4 separate regions of the Homo sapiens genome follow, and all the other regions are linked to region 1. Evidence: fine-mapped expression QTL. A gene starts in region 1. Each other region holds a variant in brackets. All regions are shown on one strand. Distances are between the middles of the regions.

The links. PIP is the estimated chance that this variant, and not a neighbour inherited with it, causes the effect.
Region 2: its variant is fine-mapped to the expression of NIPAL3 in whole blood (TOPMed, PIP above 0.99).
Region 3: its variant is fine-mapped to the expression of NIPAL3 in blood mononuclear cells (TOPMed, PIP above 0.99).
Region 4: its variant is fine-mapped to the expression of NIPAL3 in whole blood (TOPMed, PIP above 0.99).

What each region holds. Positions count from the first base shown.
Region 1 is chr1:24,413,582-24,418,581 of GRCh38, reverse strand. It overlaps NIPAL3 (NIPA like domain containing 3), which reads right to left and starts at 2,780. Exons shown (of 12, transcript NM_020448.5): 1 at 2,678-2,780. STPG1 (sperm tail PG-rich repeat containing 1) reads left to right here and starts at 4,800. Exons shown (of 9, transcript NM_001199013.2): 1 at 4,800-4,908.
Region 2 is chr1:24,448,376-24,453,375 of GRCh38, reverse strand. It overlaps NIPAL3 (NIPA like domain containing 3), which reads right to left. Exons shown (of 12, transcript NM_020448.5): 6 at 3,750-3,895. Among named protein-coding and RNA genes, the nearest start is that of NIPAL3, 35 kb to the right of the region's middle. The variant A/G (reference allele first, on the strand shown) is at 2,221.
Region 3 is chr1:24,469,776-24,475,037 of GRCh38, reverse strand. NIPAL3 (NIPA like domain containing 3) reads right to left here. Exons shown (of 12, transcript NM_020448.5): 12 at 2,062-5,262. Among named protein-coding and RNA genes, the nearest start is that of RCAN3AS, 30 kb to the left of the region's middle. The variant G/A (reference allele first, on the strand shown) is at 3,145.
Region 4 is chr1:24,439,037-24,444,036 of GRCh38, reverse strand. NIPAL3 (NIPA like domain containing 3) reads right to left here. Exons shown (of 12, transcript NM_020448.5): 3 at 3,797-3,865; 4 at 1,811-1,982. Among named protein-coding and RNA genes, the nearest start is that of NIPAL3, 26 kb to the right of the region's middle. The variant G/C (reference allele first, on the strand shown) is at 2,782.

The sequences.
Region 1 (5,000 bases):
AAGCTGGAGTGCAGTGGCACAAACATGGCCTCAAGCTGGGCTCAAGCAATCCTCCCTCAGCCTCCCAAGTAGCTGGGACCTCAGACGCGTGCCACAAGGCCTGGCTAATTTTTTTGTAGAGACAGGGTTTCGCCATGTTATCAGGCTGGTCTTGAACTCTTAGGCTCAAGCAGTCCACTTGCCTCAGCCTCCCAAAGTGCTAGGATTACAGGTGTGTGCCACTTCTCAAAATTTGCTACCAAACAGAGAAGAGAAAGTATACTTCTAGTGTCCTAGGAGGCATGGCCAAAACCCTGCTTAAAAGTGTTAGGGTTTTCTTTGAGGACTTTTTATACATTTTTTAGAAATGTATTCTACTGCATAGTCTATGTTTATTTTAATAGAAAAATGTTTTAAATTGCTTTTGATGTGCCATGTGCTACCTGTTTTACCTTTGCCAGGTCATTTAACTTTTCAGCCAGTTTCTCCAGCTGTGAAATATAGATAATAATGTTCCCACTCCACATGGCAGTCATGAGAATTTGATGAAATCATACATGTAAAATGCAGGCATAGCAAATGGTCCATGAATGTGAGCTGCTGTTAAGATTAATTTTATTCTCTCCTGTTTAATTATTTATTTTGTCCATTCCTTTCTCTCTCATGCATTCATCCAACAAATATTTACTGAGGGCTCACTGTGAGCTAAACAATTTCTGCCACTCCCTGAGGCTTCAGAGAGCTGCCTCCTGTGTATCCTGTAGCTTCCAGTTCCTTCTGCTATCCGGCCCTAGGCCCAGGAATTCTGGTTCATGGTGTGGACAGCACATACATATGTGATAAGGGGAACACCATGTCCAGTCCTGGGATACAACAAATGCAGGTTTAGCATAGGGACAGCTACAGAAACCATTTGGCTTGGTTTCACTTTGTCAGAGGGCCTCAGGATGAAATTATTGCTACTACCTGCAGACGAGGTTATATATCCAATATACAGACATGAGATGTAAGCATTCACCGGGTAACTTTATCAGGTAATTCACATCCCATAGCTAGACTTCCCTGCCTGTAAAACCCTATGAATATGTGTTTGCAATCTTGTGGAAAGCATAATTGTTCACTATACTTTCACGTACATGTGAAAAGCATTATTGTGTTACATTTCTGTAAAAATGTTTTAGCATTTGTAATAATCATAAGAGCCTTAAGAGTGGCTCAGGGTTCTTTCTACCTCTGAGAGGCCCCGGGAAGCATTCAACCATGAAGCAGTCATGGAGTTGAGGAGCGCAAACTCCAGTGAGGTGTTTGCGGAATACCCTGTTCAGTTGCTCCCAGCTGAGATCTAGCCCAGAGCCTGACAGTGACTTCTATACATACCAACCAACTGACTAAATGAGATCTAGCCCAGAGCCTGACAGTGACTTGTATACATACCAACCGACTGACTAAATGCAGGCTGGTTAAGCACTGGGTGCACTGTGGCCCCTTCGCAGTCAAGAATGCCTTTCTAAGGCCTAATCAACCACAACTCCAGAGCTTCAACAAGCAGATATACTCAGCCCCACCCACAGGAGGTCAGAGAAAGCCAACAGACCTTAGCGACATGTCAATCAAGGGAGTGGTGGGAACCCAGGCCTCCTAACATCCTTCAGAGTAGTTTGCCCAAGTGCTTTTCTGGTTTTGCTTTTGTTTGTGGTGGTTGGCATTGCTGTGGTTTAATTTTTCTTTTAAAAAGCAGCTTCCCTCTCTGCCTCAGGAACTCGCAGGCCTCTGAAGCATCGCCTGCAAAGATTGAAGGCTCTCCCTCAGCTGGGTGGGAGTCCGGACTGAAAGCCTGGAGGAACCCTTTGCAAGCTGTACTCCCTTATAAGACACATACTTTTCACCTGGTGACTCTCTTTTCCTGATTTCGAAGCATTTCTTCAGGACCTACATATGCCCGAGAGGCAAGCAGTCACCTCTGCGTTGTCAACCACCCCACAATTAGAGCACGTGGTCACTGACCCAAGGAAGGAATGAGAATTCACTAGGTGCTCTGCTTCCATTCCCACCCCGTTTATCTCGATGACGGATTTCACCAATCCCACAGAGCACGTTTTACAAATGAGACAGCCGTGGCTCATAGCGTCTGTATTCGAATTTGCCTCTTTCTGAACAAATCAATAAAACACGCTCTTTCCCACCACCCGACGATCTGGCTTCTGGAGGTGAGCGCCAGTTCCCTGCCAAGCTTCCCGTTCCTCGGCTTTGGCTCACGAGAAGGTTACATTCTTCCGTCCCGTCCCACTGAGCTGGAAACTTACAACTCGAGGAGACAGCACCTCTGTTCCAGAAGCGGGCTTAGACCAAGAACGCCTCCCCTCATCCCACCTGCTAACTCCACCATCTGCTGCCGCCAGGAAGCCCGAGCCGCTCGGCACGAAGAGGAGAAATTCTGGCAAAGTTAACTCCATGTCACTTCCTGGTTTGGTAGAGCCTGGCATCACCTTTAGTAAGGTAGCCCATGCCCCCGCTCCTCTTGGCCTCGATGCAAAACTGGAAAGAACATTCCAAGGCAACGGGACCCAGGTTGGCGAGGCTGGTGACAGTAAGAAGGAAGGGTATGTACACTAGGGGACGTTAGGTGACTTCGCTTTTTCCAGAAAAAAACGAAGGTTAAATTCAATTCCCCTTCCTCCCGGTGTTAATCACTACTCACCGGCGGCGTCTCCTCTAAGGCCCACCTATCAAAACCTTCTGAGAAATGACTCGGACTCTTCGTGCAACCCGGAGGCACAGCCTCCTTCATCCCTTCCCAATTCAGAGCTGCCAAGATGCTGCAGTGTTTTGCTTTCAAAGGTCGCGATTTGATTTGCCAGACTGCCTGCCAGTCAGAAGTTGGCAGGCATTTCGCGCAGGCAAGTGGCTGCGAGGACGGGGAGTAGGCGGGACAGCCCCTGGCAATTGGCTGCGCTGCAAAGCTTGCTTGAAGCATAAGGGAGCGACCTGGGGCTAGAGCTTGGCGCTCACCTGGAGCGGGGACCCCCTAGCGGCCACAGGAAGAATGGTGCGGCGACTCCCCTGCCCCCTCTCCCGCTGTCCCAGAGAGCTTAGGTGGTTGCTCGCCTCCACCTGCCCGGCAGGTGGGCCTGGTTTTAGCAGCCTGCCAGGTGTCCTCCCTTCTTATCCTCATAGCCACCTTCCGGGCTTTGCTCCTGCTGTTCCCCTACCCGACGCTCTCACCAAGTATTCAAATCCAAAACGTCCTTGAAGACCCAGCGCTCCCCAGAGCCCTCGCGAGACTTGGGACCAAACATATCTCTCCTTTCCTGCCCTCCTGGAACACCTGTCGGATACCAAGCCTCCCAGCAATACTGAAGGTCCTGAAACGAGCCCAGCGCTTGGTTAATGTTTCTATAATGTACATAATTATCACGGCCATGATAATTAACATGCGCATGGAGTTTTACAGATGACAAGCTTCTCATCGCTCACACGTTGTCATATACACGCATTTGCTTTCAGATCGTCACAGCCATGAGTGAGACTTGAAGCCCGTTTTACGTATGAAGAAATGTCATTTGGGCCTAGACATCAACAATGAGAAAGAGGCAGTTCTAGTCTCAGATCGTGGGGCAGAGAAAGCTCCTTGGGAACATGGGAGAGGAACGAGTTGGTGCATTGTAGAAACTGCCCGAAGGCCAGCAGGGCTGGTGAGAGATTTTTCTGGGGGCGTGGTTGGGCCTGCGATCTGAGGGACGGGCCAGGGACAGTTTATAAATAACATATTTGGGGGCCGGCGCGGTGGCTCACACCTGTAATCTCAGGACTTTGGGAGGCCAGGAGGATCACTTAAGCCCAGGAGTTTGAGACCAGCCTGGACAATATAGTGGGACCCCATCTCTACAAAAAAATTTAAAAATTAGCCGGGCGTGGTGGCGAGCGCCCGTGGTCCCAGCTACTCAGGAGGCTGAGGCGGGAGGATCGCTTGAACTCGGGAGGCGGAGGTTGCAGCGAGTCGAGATCGCGCCACTGCACTCCAGCTGGGCGACAGAGCAAGACCCTGTCAAAAAAAAAAAAAAAAAAAAAAAAGCTTGGATTTCACCCTAAATTTAAAGGCGAGCCATTGGAGGACTTTAAGCAGGGGAGTGACAAGGTCGCTGAGACCGCCCTGCCCTGAAGCGTGTGAAGAGGGGCTCCTGGAATACTAAGTGGCTGCCCTTGTATAGTCGCCCATGTCAATTTTTTTTTTTTTCTTCTGTTAGAAACAGGGCTTGGGGCCGGGCGTGGTGGCTCACGCCTGTAATCCCAACACTTTGGGAGGCCGAGGCGGGTGGATCACCTGAGGTCAGGAGTTCGAGACCAGCCTGGCCAACGTGGTGAAACCCTGTCTCTACTAAAAATACAAAAAGAATAGCCTGGCGTGGTGGCGAGCGCCGGTAATCCCAGCTACTCAGGAGGCTGAAGCAGGAGCATCGCTTGAACCTGGAGGGCGGAGGTTGCAGTGAGCCAAGATTGCGCCACTGCACTACAGCCTGCTCGACAAAGCGAGACTCTGTCTCAAAAAAAAAAGAAACAGGGCTTGGATGAATGTTAATTCTTTTAGGTATATTCCTTGAAGCAGGATTTTTGAGTGAGCAAAATTCTGAGGCTTTTGGTTTATCACAAGATTTTTGAAGCATGGCCTAGATAAACCTCTTATTAGTTCCCCACCCCGCTACAGGCCCTGATGTAATTAACCTAAGCCCTAAAATTCGGCCGGCTTCTCTGCGGACTTTGAAACGCCTCTAATGATTGGTCAACAACTTTTCACGTTAAAGAAACAGAGGATGCCATTGGCTGGAGTTACCTCGCGGACGGCGGAAGGTGGACTCGCGAATGTTAGGCCTGTGGGTGCCATAGCGACCGGGAGGTTGGGCTGGCCAGATTCAGCTGCCGGGACCGGACCAGGTAGGAAGCAGTTCCGGCGGGGGGACCGGTCCCTGAGGTCGTGGGGAAGAGGACACGGCGCACCATGTCCTCCGCATGGGACGCCCGCGGAG
Region 2 (5,000 bases), 35 kb before region 1:
GGACCACAGAAGTAGGCGAGACCGGGAGACCCTGGTGGGCTGGGCCATCACCAGAGTCACAGGGTTGAAAGGGAATGACTGAGCTATGATTCAGCATTTCCCAAACTACTGTTAGACGTTCAGGGGAAAAGGGAAACACAGAGTGAATCTCTCTAATCCCTGGCTAGTACTGAGAAGGAATTCCCTGTTGTCCTGAGGCTGAAGCTTTGAGGGTGACGTGCTGCTCTCATATCCACTCTTTCTTGGAGGGCCAAGATGCATCAGGCTGAGATGGTTTCTTCCCACTCCACTGCTCCATGGGCATCCCCATTAAAACAATGGGTTGGTCCAAGAGGGAGACACTTGTTCACCAACCTATTTGGTCAAGAATGTGAGGCCAGGCACGGTGGCTCACACCTGTAACCCTAGCACTTTGGGAGGCCAAGGCGGGTGGATCACCTGAAGTCAGGAGTTCGAGACCAGCCTGGCCAACATGGTGAAACCCGGTCTCTACTAAAAATACAAAAAAAAAAAAAAAAAAAATTAGCTGGGCGTGGTGGCATCTGCCTATAATCCCAGCTACTCAGGAGGCTGAGGCAGGAGAATTGCTGAGATCACGCCACTGCACTCCATCCTGGGAGACAGAGCGAGGCTCCATCTCAAAAAAATAAATAAATACATAAATAAAGAATATGAGTATATACTCCCTGTGCTCCCAGCCAAGCTTCCAGTGTGAAGCTTCACAGAGTAGAATGAGGAAGGCCTTTGGAGTCAGGGAGACCTGGGCTGGAACTTAGGTCTGCCTCTAAACTAGTCGTGTGGCCTTGGGTAAGTCACTTAACTTCTCTAAACCTTAGTTAACCCTCTGTGGAGTAGGGTTAAGAATTCTTTTTATGGGCCCATAATCATAGCTTACACTAAATGACGTCTCCTTGTACGCCAGGCAGTGTTCTAAGCATTTTATCTACGTTAAACTCACTAAATCAGCACAATAACTCTACGAAGCAGGTACTACCACGATGGCGTGGCACAGAGGAATTTAAACCTGGACAGTCTGGCTCCCAGGCCCATGCACTTTCCTGCTAGGCCACACTGTCTGGTGCTCTATCAGTAGAAACTTACCACTAGACGATGGCAAGTCCGAGTTTGAGAAGCTCCCCCTCCTTGCATCAACAACTGTTCCTTTCTACCCCTTAAAAGCCCAGATATTTGCTAACACTTTCCCAAGAAGTTAAGCCAGCCCTAGCGCCCAGTGCAACTAAAGCAGAAAACTTTGACAACAGCTTAGTCTCATTTGCCTATCCCAAACCCCTTATCAAAGCTGATTTAGTATAAAAAAAACCCAGAAACATTAATGGGCATTTTGAAACATTTAAAACATTCCTTCTAATTAGAGACCATAAAACACAGCTGCTTTCATTTCCCCGTTTCTTCTTTGTCTTTGTTCCAGTGAATCCATATTTTAACGAGTTGTCATTATAGTCAATGCACGATTTTGTACTGGGCTGTTTTTAGTTACCATAAACAATCTTCATGTTTTGTGAAGTTGTCATAATTATCTTTAATTGCTGCAGAATACTTCATCAAGTGGATGTGCTGTCAATCATCAACATTCCCAACCACTGTGCCTGCATTTGAGGGGTCCCAATTCTTCAGCCATTCTCCATGATTTTTTTTTTCTTTTTCTTTTTTTGAGACAGGGTCTCACTGTGTCACTCAGGCTGGAGTGCAGTACTGTGATCATGGCTTACTGCAGCTTTGACCTCCAGGGCTCAAAGCTATCCTCCCACCTTAGCCTCCTTAGTAGCTGGTAATACAGGCATGCATCACCACACCTGGCTAATTTTTACTTTTTTTTTTCCAAATAGAGACGGGGTTTTGCCACATTGCCCACACTGGTCTCAAGTTCCTGGGCTCAAGCAATCCTCCTACCTCGGCCTCCCAAAGTGCTGAGATTATAGGTGTGAGCCACCACATGTGGCCCGTTCTCCATGATTCTAAAATGAACACTGGAATAGCACTGGACATTATATCATGAGATGGCTGTGCATATGTGGTGCCTCCCAACAGTCCGTGAGTACTGTGGGCATGTCTCATTTATTTTTTATAACCATAGTGTCTAGCACACAGCAGACGCTCAATAAATATTGACTGAATTTGGTTTGGCCAAATCTCTCCAGCTGGCAGCACTGCCTCCCAGTCATGATGAAGTAAGACAACAGAATCATTCACTGAGCATCT[A/G]CCACCTTCTGGGTGACTTAAATGCTACTTCCTGGATCTCCCAATAGCAATTTTAAGTCCAGAGATTCTTGCCACTTTACAGAGAGGGAAACAGAGAAGGAAAGCGACTTGGCTAAGGCCACACAGCACTTAGGAAGTCTTGGGCTTCAATCCTCTGAGTGAAAGGCCTGTTCTGGGGTAACGCTTTGCCCAAGGAGGCGGTCTTTTGCTCTGTCACCAACTACATGCTGGGGCTGGCTGCCTGTTGGGAAATGACACAGCCCCCATTTCAGGGGAAGTGATCCTCTGCCTTGTGGATAATCTGAGGAAAAAGGATGTTCCAGGGCCTCTAGACTCAATCAGAGACCAGGCTGTTTATGTCAGAGGAAAACAGTGAACACCTTTGTCGGCAGGCCACGGGGAAGGAAGATGGCACCTGAGGCCAGGTGGGCCCGGCCTTCAAATCCAACCCTGCTTTTATGAACTCTGAGCAGGTCAGCTAACCTCTCAGAGCCCTGGTTTTCTCACCCATAAAATGGGAAGAACATTTACTTTACAGGGTTAAGAGAATCTGAGATGATACATAAAAATGTGTTTAGCACAGCGCAGGGCATGGAACAAGAACGTACCAGTAGCTTTATCACATACTTTAGATGTTTTCCTTAATCAGTTGATTTATAGACTTAAAATGGGATAGAACTGGGGCAGAGGACTGAGCTCTGGCGGAGGGGTTAGGAGACAAAATTTCCCGTGTCTCCTGGGCTTCTATCAGCAGTGTGATACTGGGAAAAAAAATAAAATAACATTCTTAAATGGTTTACAGTTTTAACTTTTTCTTCCCCTTACCATAAAAGTTTGAAATGGTTACTGTAGAAATTTTGGACAATTCATAAAGATGAAGAGGAAATAAGAACTGAGTCATAACACTATCTCCCAGAGCCAACTACTGATGGAATTTGCTTTCCCATCCAGGCCTTCCTAGGTATATTACATGACCACATACCTATACACACCTCTAAAAAATAAAACTGACATCATAATGGTTTTGATATTACTGTGTGGGGCACAGTGGCAGTTCATTCGTTCTCATTGTGTACAGTGATCCACTGTGTGAATACAACACAATTTATCCATTCTACTGCTGGGGGGCACTTGAGGAGTCTCCAGCCTGGAGTTATAAAAAATAATGTTGCTGTGAACATTCTCATACATGTCATTTGAGAAACACATGTATGCATTTCTGTTGAGTATAAAATGAGGGGTGGAATTCCTCCATAGGATATGTGGATATTCAATTTGGTAATTAGTGTCAAATGTTTTTCCCAAGTGGCTGTACCAATTTACACTCCCACCAGTAGAGTTTTGATATTACATAAATGAAACAAGCATTTCGCCATGAGCTGTGTACTCTCCAGAAGCACGGTCTTTCATGCTGGTAAAATGTGCCGCAACTCACGGAATCCCCTATTGCTGGGTATTCACGTTTCTGGTTTCTAGGACTTGATCTCCCTCCTGCCATCTCAGGGGGAACGACTGGAGGCTTCTCTTACCATGTACAAAAGGAAAGGCCAGCTCACGAGGTGCCTGGTGACATTCTCGCCTGTCATCTTCTCGTGACTGTTGGGTGCGAATGTCACCAGCAGGTAGGTACCCACGACAGCCAAACCGCAGCCAACAAAGGACAAGACGTAGCGCCCTGCGGGGAAGAGAGGCTGTCACGGACTCATTGCAACAACAGGCCCAAGATACAGTACACGTTCTCAGCCATGAAAAAACAGGCTTCTCCTGCAACATACCATGACCTGGTATTGTTTGTATTTTTGGTTTTTCTTTACTTTAAAAAATAAATGATTTTCCTTAATTTTGTTAAAAAAACAATTAATGTAAAAAAATAAAAAACTTTAATGAAGTATAACATGCATACAAAAAGTGCTTGAGGAATTCTCCCAAAGTGAACACACTCATGAAACCAGCTCCCAGATGGAGAAAGAGAACATTAGCCAGATACTGAAATTTCTCATTTGTGAAATTGATTACTAGACCCCACCCTCAGGGTTACACTATCTTGACCTGTAACAGCACTGATGGCTTTGCCTAGCTTTGTGCTTTATACAAATGGACCCATACGGTGTGATCTCTTTTGACTCAGCATGATGTTTCTGAGATTCGTCTGCGTTGTGGGGCACAGTGGCAGTTCATTCGTTCTCACTGTGTACAGTGGTCCACTGTGTGAATACAACACAATTTATCCATTCTACTGCTGGGGGGCTTTTGAGGAGTCTCCAGCCTGGAGTTATAAAAAATAATGTTGCTGTGAACATTCTCGTACATGTCATTTGAGAAACACATGTATGCATTTCTGTTGAGTATAAAATGAGAGGTGGAATTCCTCCATAGGATATGTGGATGTTCAGTTTGGTAGTTAGTGTCAAATGTTTTTCCCCAGTGGCTGTACCAATTTACACTCCCACCAGTAGAGTAAGACAGTTCTAGTTACATTCTTGTCAACACTTACATTTTGTCTTTTTCATTTTAGCCATGATGGTATTGCACTGTGATTTTAATGTGCATTTTACAGGTAACATTTTAAAGCTAAAATCACTTTATGGGCAAACTAAAAAAACAAATAAAATAAAACATAAAGGCAAACCTTCAGAGCTCAACACGTACCTTTTAAAAATTACCTCATCCTTTCTCAACTGGCTATTTAACCTAACGCCAAGGGAACTATATAATAACTATATAATTACTATCAATATTCTACGCCACAGACCTGTCAGAGAACTGTTAGTGGTCCAGGT
Region 3 (5,262 bases), 56 kb before region 1:
CTGAATTTTTTTTTTTTTTTTTTTTTTTTTGAGATGGAGTCTCACTCTGTGGCCAGGCTGGAGTGCAATGGCACAGTCTTGGCTCACTGCAACCTCTGCCTCCTGGGTTCAAGCGATTCTCCTGCCTCAGCCTCCCAAGCAGCTGGGACTACAGGCGTGCACCACCACGCCCAGCTAATCTTTGTATATTTATTAGAGACGGGGTTTCACCATGTTGGCCAGGATGGTCTTGATCTCTTGATCTTGTGATCTGTCTGCCTCAGCCTCCCAAAGTGCTGGGATTACAGGCGTGAGCCACCGCACCTGGCCGGTAGACTGAATTTTATTCCCTCATCTGGTTTGCAGGTGGGACCATTGCAAACGTGGTCCCCAGAGACTCAGCTAATGAGCTTCTGTCCTTCAAGTCTGCACCTTCCTTTGAAACTGGGCCAAAGGTGATGTCCTAACCCATGGCAGACCTTACTCCCATTAAAATCCTGTTTGCCCACACCAGGAGAGGCAGCACAGTGAGGGAAGAGCTCAGGTTTTGGAGTCAGGCAGTCCTGGGCTCAAATACTGGCTCTGCTGTTCACCAGCTATGAGACCTGAGTCTCAATTTCTTTTCTTTTTGAGATAGGGTCTTGCTCTGTTGCCCAGGCTGGAATGCAGAGGTGCAATCATGGCTCACTGCAGCCTCAGTCTCCTGGGCTCAAGCAATCTTTTCACCTCAGCCTCCTGAGTAGCTGGGACTACTGGCACACACCACCATGCCTGCTAATTTTTATTTTAATTTTTAATTTTTTTTTTAGTAGAGATGGGGTCTTGCTATGTTGTGCAGGCTGGTCTCAAATTGCTGAGCTCAAGTGATCCTCCTACCTTGGCCTCCCAAAGTGGTGGCATTACAGGCATAAGCCACCATGCCCAGTCAGTCTCAGTTTCTTCATCTGTAAAAGGATATGATTAAAATTTACCTCATGGAACTTTTATAAAGGAGAAATGAGATATAAATATGAGGTCTTAATATATCATGTGGCATACAGTAAGTGCTTAATATATGAGTATGTATATATGACTCTGTATTTTATTTTTGTGACTGTACAAATAAATATATAGGTACCATACTACACCTGCCTTTGCAAATTGGAAACTTGGAATGAAGAGACATATGTGCTTAGAAATACTTAAGATCAAAAGTGTTCATTATATAATTTAAAAAAGAATAAAGAGAAAAAAACCCCATTGTTTCAATATAATACAATGCCTTGATGGGATGCTCAATATAGTTCTAAGACTTTACATCTATTAACCCATCCAATCCTAAAACAATCCTTAATAATGCTGTTATTCCTGTTTCACAGATGAAGCACAGACAGGTTAAGTAACCTGCCCAATGCTACACAGCTAACAGGTGAGAGAGGAATCAAATCCAAGCAGTGTAGACAGAGAGTCTGTGCTTTTTTTTTTTTTTTTTTTGAGATGGAGTTTCACTCTTGTTCCCTCTTGTTGCCCAGGCTGGAGTGCAATGGTGCAATCTTGGCTCACCGCAACCTCCACCTCCCAGGTTCAAGGGACTCTCCTTGCCTCAGCCTCCCGAGTAGCTGGGATTACAGGCACGTGCCACCATGCCTGGCCAATTTTATATTTTTAGCAGAGACGGGGTTTCTCCATGTTGGTCAGGATGGTCTCAAACTCCTGACCTCAGGTGGTCTGCCTGCCTCAGCCTCCCAAAGTGTTGGGATTACAGGCATGAGCCACCGTGCCTGGCCAAGAGTCTGTGCTTTTAACCACGGTGAAGGTTGCAGGGGAAGCTCAAGTGAGCCTCAGCTGCAATAATGGGCATCTCTAGATCTGTACTGTTAATATACGAACTATATGGAAATGTAATTAGATGAAATTAAACATTCAGTTCCTTGGTTGCACTAGCCACATTTAAAGTGTTCAACAGCCACCTGTGGAGAGTGGCTACCATGTTGGGCAGCATAGACATAGAACACTTCCATCATCGCAGAAAGTTCTACTAGACAGTACTGTTCTAGATAATTCTAGGAAGTATTAGCCAAACATAAGACACGAACTCAGCTGTCACTGCATGGATTTTTAATTAAATACCACTTCATAATGTTATTTGCACCTAGTACTTTTTTTTTTTTAAATAAGACATGCCATAAGTCGTGAAGTTAACAAAATATAAGCATCCGCACAGAATATATTCTAAGGTGACTTCATTTACACCGCTTCTCAGAGAAACACACAAGTAACCTTTTGTCTGCCTATCAGCCAGTGTTGAAACAGCTTTGGAATTCACATGGAAGGCTGCCGGGCTGGTTCCCCAACACTAGCCTGATGGAGTCCTGTATCCGCACCGTGCCGTCAAACTGGCTGGTTTCCACTAGAAAAGCAATGGAGAGTCAGCTCTCCCTTCTTTACCCAGCGTTCAACTCCACACTGCAAAAACTGCATAACCTGAACCCTGCTGTGATGGCAACTGAAGTTTAAACCCAAGTTTGGTGACCTTGCTTTAGGTACCTGGGCTGCTCAAAAGGAGACCGAGGTGTGATATTTAACATTGCTTGCAACATTCAAGAGGGCTTGGGGACGTCAGAGCCATGAGTAACAATAACGAACCAGGGCTATGAGTGGAATCCTGATGTACCCCTTCCCCATCTTAACAGCCAGTGCTGCGTATGGCCATCAGCAGACAGTCCATTTATACCACTGGACAAAGATTGGGAGGAACCAGCCCAAGACAGATGATGGCTCCACACCCACTGTGCTTCCTGACTACTCAAGTGACCTACGTGTGGCTTCCAGTCAGGAAACTACCATTTAACTTTCTGCTCAGCCCTTTCATGGCTCAGGTTGGTGGGATGATGCCACTGCTCCAAACCCGAAGGCAAGGGAGCTTCCCAGGCCTCAGCAGCAGTTCCTGGGTGGCACTGTCCCCATGATCTGAAGCAGACATGAAATTACAATACGCTTTTATTCACTCATCTCAAGAAAGCTGGCTGGCCCAAGCCTAAAAGGCCCATACCAAAAAAAAAAAAAAAAAAGGGAAGGAAGGGGGCAGAGTAAGTTTGGGAGCATATATATGCCCAAATTATTAATGATCACCCGGGTTTGACACATCTAAATAGCCTCCCTGCTCACCTTCTGTTTCTCCCTCCT[G/A]CCTCCACTCCCAGCTTTAGAAAAATCATTTGGGAAAGGAGAAATATATAAATAGCAGTGAAACCTGATTTTAATTTCTGCTTTTTGTTTTTTGTTCTTGCAGGCTCGGAGAAGGTAACTTATTCCCCCTTCTGATTCTTCCTCCACACTGAACAAGCCCTCCTTTTCAATCAGTGCTGGTCCTGCCCTTCTCTTCCTCATGAACCATCAGTGGCTCCCACGTCCTCTTGGATACACTTTAAACTCCTTAGCCAGGTATTCAAGACCCTCCATGATTCGGCCTCCACTGCTTATCTTTTTTTTTTTTTTTTTTTTGAGCCATGGTCTCATTGTCACCCAGGCTGGAGTGCAGTAGCATGATCATGGCTCACTGTAGCCTTGGCTCTCTGGGCTCTAGCGATCCTCCCACCTCAGCCTCCTGAGTAGCTAGGATCACAGGCATGCACCACCACACCCAGCTAATTTATTTATTTTTAATTTTTAGCAGAGATGAGGTCTTGCTATGTTGCCCAGGCTGATATAAAACTCCTGGGCTCAAGTGATCCTCCAGCCTTGGCCTCCCAAAGTGCTGGGATTGCAGGCATGAGCCACTGTGCCCAGCTTCCACTACTTAGCTTTGAGACTCATCTCCCACCACCTTCCCTGGCTTTCCTTTCTTTGCCCAGCTCCTCTTAGCTCTGTGCCTTTGCAAATGCTGGCCCCTCTGCCTCGGGGGTGATCACCCTATTTTATATGCTTTATACAAATCTTAGATTTGCCACCCATCTATGAGTGGGGCCAAAATCATCTCCACTTCTGAATACCCCTTTGGGCTCAGGGTCCGACCTTTAGCAGGGTCTCCATGACGGTCATTTTCTGTGGCCCACGACCGCACTTCACACCCATCAGAGATTCCTGGGTATTTGTGCCTCCCTCTGCTGGCCTGGAGGGCAGGAACTATGTCTTATTTTGTAGCCTGGGTCTTCCAAATGCTTAGCACACAGTAAATGCCTTATAAATATTGTTGAATTGATACCCATCCTAAGGGAAAGGGGCCCACTGCCCATTGCCGCCTTAGGCAGTTAAGACCACACAATACAGAAGTGGTTAAGACGCAATACAGAAGTGGTTATCACAGACAACAGATGTCAGTTTTTGGAGTCAAGATACTAAATCAGTATTAAGCACAATCCATAAAGATAAGTGATCTATCACACTGGTCTATTAACACTGTTATCATGCCTATTAAAGGCTGTCTAGGGAAGTGGTGAGTGTAGCTCTAAGTAGTATTCATTGGATGGAGAAATGCCACAGATCCTATGGGGAGTATTTAACCTTCCAAAGGAACCCTAGGGAGGAAATTTTCTAGCAAGACTGCATGGGGCCCTGGGGGTTTTAGCAGAACATCTTTGTAAATTCTTAGGCTTTCCAGATGTGAAATCTCGGGATTGAAGCATCGCATCAGAATCACTGGTGGTACCAGTTAAGAATGCAGACCCGTGGGCCCCACTCCAGTCCCACTTAACAGTGTCTGCAGTTGGGGTGCAGGAATCTGCATTTTACATATGCTTCTAGGGGATCCTTATGCCCATTAAAGTTTGCAAACCTTTATCCGCCCCTCTCAAAAGTATACCATCAGTCTAGGGGAAGACAGTCACATATGCGGCCAGGAAGAAAGCAACAGCCCTGTTTTGGAGAATGCTTGCTTCTCCCAGACATATATGCATGGGGATGAGGACCCAGAGAGTCTCTATTGACTTCAAGGAAATTAACCAGTAACTCAAGCTTGGCTTGTGGCTCTGTAATGGAGAGACGGAGGACAGGTGAAGAGGCTGTCTCTGAAATGAGCATCCCCATCTTTCCAGGGGGCACTGGTATGCAGGAAAAAAATAACACATAAAATGGCCAGATTTTCTACCTATCCTTTTTTAAGTGGTGCAATCACCTTTTGTAAGAGTAAGGGGAACTTTTCTTCCTTAATGGGCTAAAGCATCATCACCCTCTCCTATCCTCCATATTCTTCCCCTTCTCTTAACTTCCTAATTCCTTTGGTGGAGGAGGTGGACAAACAAGTAGTCCTCACAGGACCAAAACCAAGTTTCGTTTTCAGAGTAGATCCAATTTGAACATATCAAGCAC
Region 4 (5,000 bases), 25 kb before region 1:
CTCTTTAAAAAAAAAAAAGAATTTGGTTATTTGAACCTTATTAAAATTCGAAGACTAATATTTAAAGCACCAGTCACTTAGACACTTATTTCTCATTGTGAAAAAGGTTTGGGAGCCCTTTGGAGATACCTGCAGTGGGCAGAGCAGAGTGATAAGGCTACAGGTATGATCACATACAGGGGCTGGGGAGTAACAGAACACAAATATAGAAAATGGTCTGGAAGTAAGACAACAGGGAAAGGCTGAGACTCTGGCAAACTACTTGCCTCAGCTAAAGACATTCAAATTACATTAAAAAAGTACTGTGTGGGAAAAAACACACACCATGTCTGAGGACCTCATTCACTTTGCAAGCTGCCAGTTCAGCAACCCTGGTTAGGAAAAACCGGGACTTATAACAGGATCAGGGAAAGTAAATAGGTTTCTGCTCCCTTGCCAACTCCTGGTGATTGGTAGTGACTGTTGGAAGCACTGAGAATTCTGAGGCCCCATCTATGCTCTCTAGGAAGGAATGCCATGATTGATTAACGATGTCTGCCTTGAGCACAGCAAGGGAGGGGCACATAGTTACCATGCATCTGCCATCCCTTGCATAGAAGAGAACCTCTTAACTCAAGGAGGAATAAGACCCAAAATATGACTTTCTCCTTTAAGAGCAGAGCAGAGCATCTGGGCAGAGTAGTGCTTGCCAGCAAAATGGAAAGAAATATTTCAAAGCAAGTTCATTGTCCTGGCTGCTATGCACACAAAAAAAGCTATTGTTCACTAATCTACTAACATCTTTTCTTTAAGAAGAATTTTTTTTTTCTAATTCTGTTTTGCTTGTGTTCTCATGAACATTAAAGCTCCCTTGTCTTTTAGTTGGTTCAAATGTTCTGAAACACTGGTTCAGTGATTACAGAAATCACAGAAAGCTGGCAGATGAGAAAGTTAATGGCCAGTGTGGTGGCTTACAATTGTAGTCCCAGCACTTTGGGAGGAAAGGCAGGCAGATAGTTTGAGCTCAAGAATTTGAGACCAGCCTGGCCTGGCCCCAAACCCTACAAAAGCTTAATTTGTTTTTTCAATAGATGAGGTCTTGCTCTGTCACCCAGGCTGGAGTGCAATTGTGTAATCAAAGCTCACTGCAGCACTCAAACACTGGACTTAAGGGATCCTCCTGCTTCTGTTTCCCAAGTAGCTAGGACCACAGATGCATACCACCATGCCCAGCTAATTGTTTTTCTTTTTTGTTTGTTTGTTTCATTTTGTAGAGATGGGGTCTCTCCATGTTGCCCAGGCTGGTCTCAAACTCCTGGCCTCAAGCGATCCTCCCACTTCAGCCTCCCAAGTAGCTGGGATTACAGGTACAAGCCACTGCACTCAGTGACAAGCTTAATGTATCTTGATGGTGAAAAGATGCATGGGTTAAGGTTTATCTTCCTTCTTCTTTTAGAAATAAAAAGCAATTCTAATAAGCCTTCTGAATCTTAAACAGAACCTGGAGCCAGACAGCCCAGTTCATATCCCAGCCCTGTTACTCACTAGCTGTGTCATTTGGGGAAAGTAATTTCATTACCCCGTGCCTCAGTTTCCTCATCTGTTAAATGGGGATAACAACAACATCTCCCTCAACAGGTGGCTGGAGGATTAGCAGAATTAATATCTGTAAGCACTTACAGGGCCTGGTGTGTCTGAAGCCCTTTGTATTAGGCTATTATTATCCAAGCTAAAGCTGGTTTGTTCAATGGGCACCTTTGATCCTGGCGCTGGCACTCTGGTCACGCAGCTGGGAGCACCCCAGGGGAGGGTGGGGCAGCCCTGGTCTTACCTATCACAGAAACTGCGCTGAGGGGCACGATGAGTGACAGCGGCGCGAAGGCGTAGGAGGCGAACACACCCAGCTCGCCCAGAAGCATCAGGAACAGGCCCAGCCACCATGTCTTGGTCTTGAAATAGGCCCGGGGATCCTTGGAGCCTGCCAGGCGGATGTGGCAGTACTTCTAGAAACCCGAGAAATAATGCAATTTGCTCAGATGTTTGGGGAAAAAAATGCTATGATGTAGGTACCCTAAATCCACCCCCAACTTGCAAATAAATTGGGAAGACTTGTCAGGTTCTTGTGGAGTCCTGACTCAGAGAAGAGTAAGACAGTGGGGATCTAAATACTAGATCTAAATTCTAGGACAGTAGCTCTCCAACAGGCTGGGAATCCTTATAATCCCCTGAGAAGCTCTGTCAAAATACCCACCTGGGCCTCATCCTGAGTCAGTCTCGGAGAGGTGTGGATGAGCCTGAAAACAGGCATTTCTAATGCACGTCACAGGCAATGCAGTCTCAGGGTGGGAGCCATAGTCTAAAGATCCCACTTGGCCTGGCCCTTGGGTCGACCTCCTCCCTCTCTCTGCAGTTTCCAGGATTCCCCACGTTTGGATGACTGTGTGTTCGGCACACTCCTTCCTGTCTACATGCCAGCAGCTCTCGCTGGGCAGTTGTGTGGGTATCAGTGGGCCTTGCTCTCCCTGGGGTGGATACGTGGCTCAAGCATGGTCAATATTCTTTTTTGGGGGGAAATGTGAACCTGGGACATCGAAACTGAAGCAGTAACTAAAGCAGGCTAGAAAGTCATGTTGACTTAGAGGGCCAAGTCTGCCATTTGGGGAGGATCATGATGTGGGCTGCCCAGAAGCAGATAAACAACCAGAGATGCTGCCCTGGAGAAAGAAGAGAATGAACCAGACAAGTAGCTAAGAGACCACGTGGTCTCAGCGACACACAGAAACATACACATCCCAGAGCTGA[G/C]ATGCATAGAGTACAGGTGAACAAGGCACAAGTGTGTGCCCACAGGGATCACAGTCTCCTGCCTGCTCCAGGGAGGGAGAGCAGTTCACTGCAGGCAGAAGCTGGGCAGTGCTGGTGGAGTGAAGCCGGCCAGTGTGCTGTGGGATTCATCCTGTTAGCAGGTACCAAGTCTTATCTGGGTTTCCCAGAAGCAGTCCCTGAGACAAGAATGTGGGAGCAGGTAGTCTGTATGAGATAATTCCAGGGAGCACGAGTAAGGGAAGGGGAAAGTGAGGCAGGGAACAGAGATGAAAGGTGCATTCATGAGCGGATTAGTCCCGTGGGCAACTGGGACTCAGTCCCACAGGGGACCCTCTGAAAAACCCTGTGAATCTCACCTTAGAATCATCCTAGCAGAGGATAAGAGCCTGGGGCATTTATTCCCTGCCTCCCACCCCTGCTGGCAGAAGGCAGCCTCCAGGGGCATTAACGTCCTGCTCCCCCAGTGCACACCCCAACTGTGCCTGCATGCCAGTAACACCAGCTCCTTGGTGCCCCCATGAGAAGCTCATTAGCTATCAACTTGCTACACACCACAGCTGCTTGTGAACTCAGACAGGCCGAGGGGATTTGGAGGTCAGTGGGGGGATCCACAGCAGCTGTAGAGGGCATCCCTGAGGCTTTTAAGTAATGAACAGTGCTGTAATTAGAGTTGAATTTGACAAAACTATGGTAATTCCAGCAGCTTTGCAGCAAGGCAAAGAGGGATGAGACCAGAGCCAGAGAAGCTAGCAGGAGGTCACTGCAAAGCCCAAGGAGAGACAGTGAGGACCTGGCTAGGAGGGCGAGGGCGGGATGGAGTGGGGCCACTGAATCAAGAGAAATCCTGGAACGGCCCACAAGGTATTGTCCCAGGTGCAGCCCAGGGATGCAGTAGGCAAGGCCCTGCAGAGAGGAGGCAGCTGGACCTGGATAAGACACCCTGACTTGTCTGCTGTGTCTCTGTCCCCAGACAGTGCTGGTAACTGAAACTTACCTGGAGGTTAAGTGCAATGCTGACCACGAGGTGCCCGAAGATCGCCAAGAGGGCGCCAATCAGGTTTTCCTGTAAGGAAAGTTCACAGGAGTGGACATGATTTGGGCACAAGCCAGGGGGCCCCAGGACACTTCTGACACTCAACCATTTGCTGCCCCAAAACAAAACCAGAAAAACAATATCAGTGACAAAGCCACACTCCAGACCCACAACTGGAATGTTACTACTGAAGGTTAATCTGGCTGCTTTGCTGGTTTACAAAATGCTGCCCTGAATTGGATACTTTGGTGGCCCGATCACACTGACCTGACAAGGTCTAAACCTGCTGTGCTATTCCCTTTAAAGTATTAACTTGCCACCATCTTGTGCAGAAAAGCAACATTCCAAAATCAGAATTTACAAGAGAAATATAGGCCAGAGAATACTTTTTGCTATCTTGTCAATAGTGTCTTCAATTTCCCAGAGGGTTTCAATGAAACTCTTTTAACTGGCTCACTTGCTTAGGGCATTGTCAATTACTCAATTTATAAAAAGTTAATTTACATCACCTATGAGTTAGGTTCAGACTACCTGGCACGGAATTTTGTACTTTCTAAAATGATTACCAAACATATATTCATTGTAGACTAAATAGGAAATATATATAGATAAAAATAATAATATCTTAGACAAGGTAGCATGAGAAAAAAATGAAAAAAATAACAATAACAACACCACCATAATAGAAAAGTCACTTTTAATTCTATAACCCAGAGATAATGACTATAAACATTTTGGTTCTTATTCCTGCAAACATTTTTCTGTCCATAAATTTACATATCAATGGAAATGTTAATTTACTTTATAAAAATAAGATTACCATCTGTTTTATAATCTGTTTTTTTACTTAACATATTGTGAGCACATTTCCCTGTCAGGCATACCTAATTTGTCATTTTTATTAAATGTCAAATAACTCATTATTTTTGGATGTGCCATATTTTATATCATTGCTTTGCTATTACTGGATATTTAGGCTGTTTCCTTTATTATTAATTTTTCATTTAACTTTATTTTAGAGTCGGGGTAAATGGGCAGGTGTGTTACATGGGTAAATTGTGTAATGCTGAGGTTTGGGTTTCTAGTGAACCCATCACCCAAATAAGTGAACACAGTACCCAATCGGTAATTTTTCAACTCTCACCCCCACCCCTCCCCGTTTTGG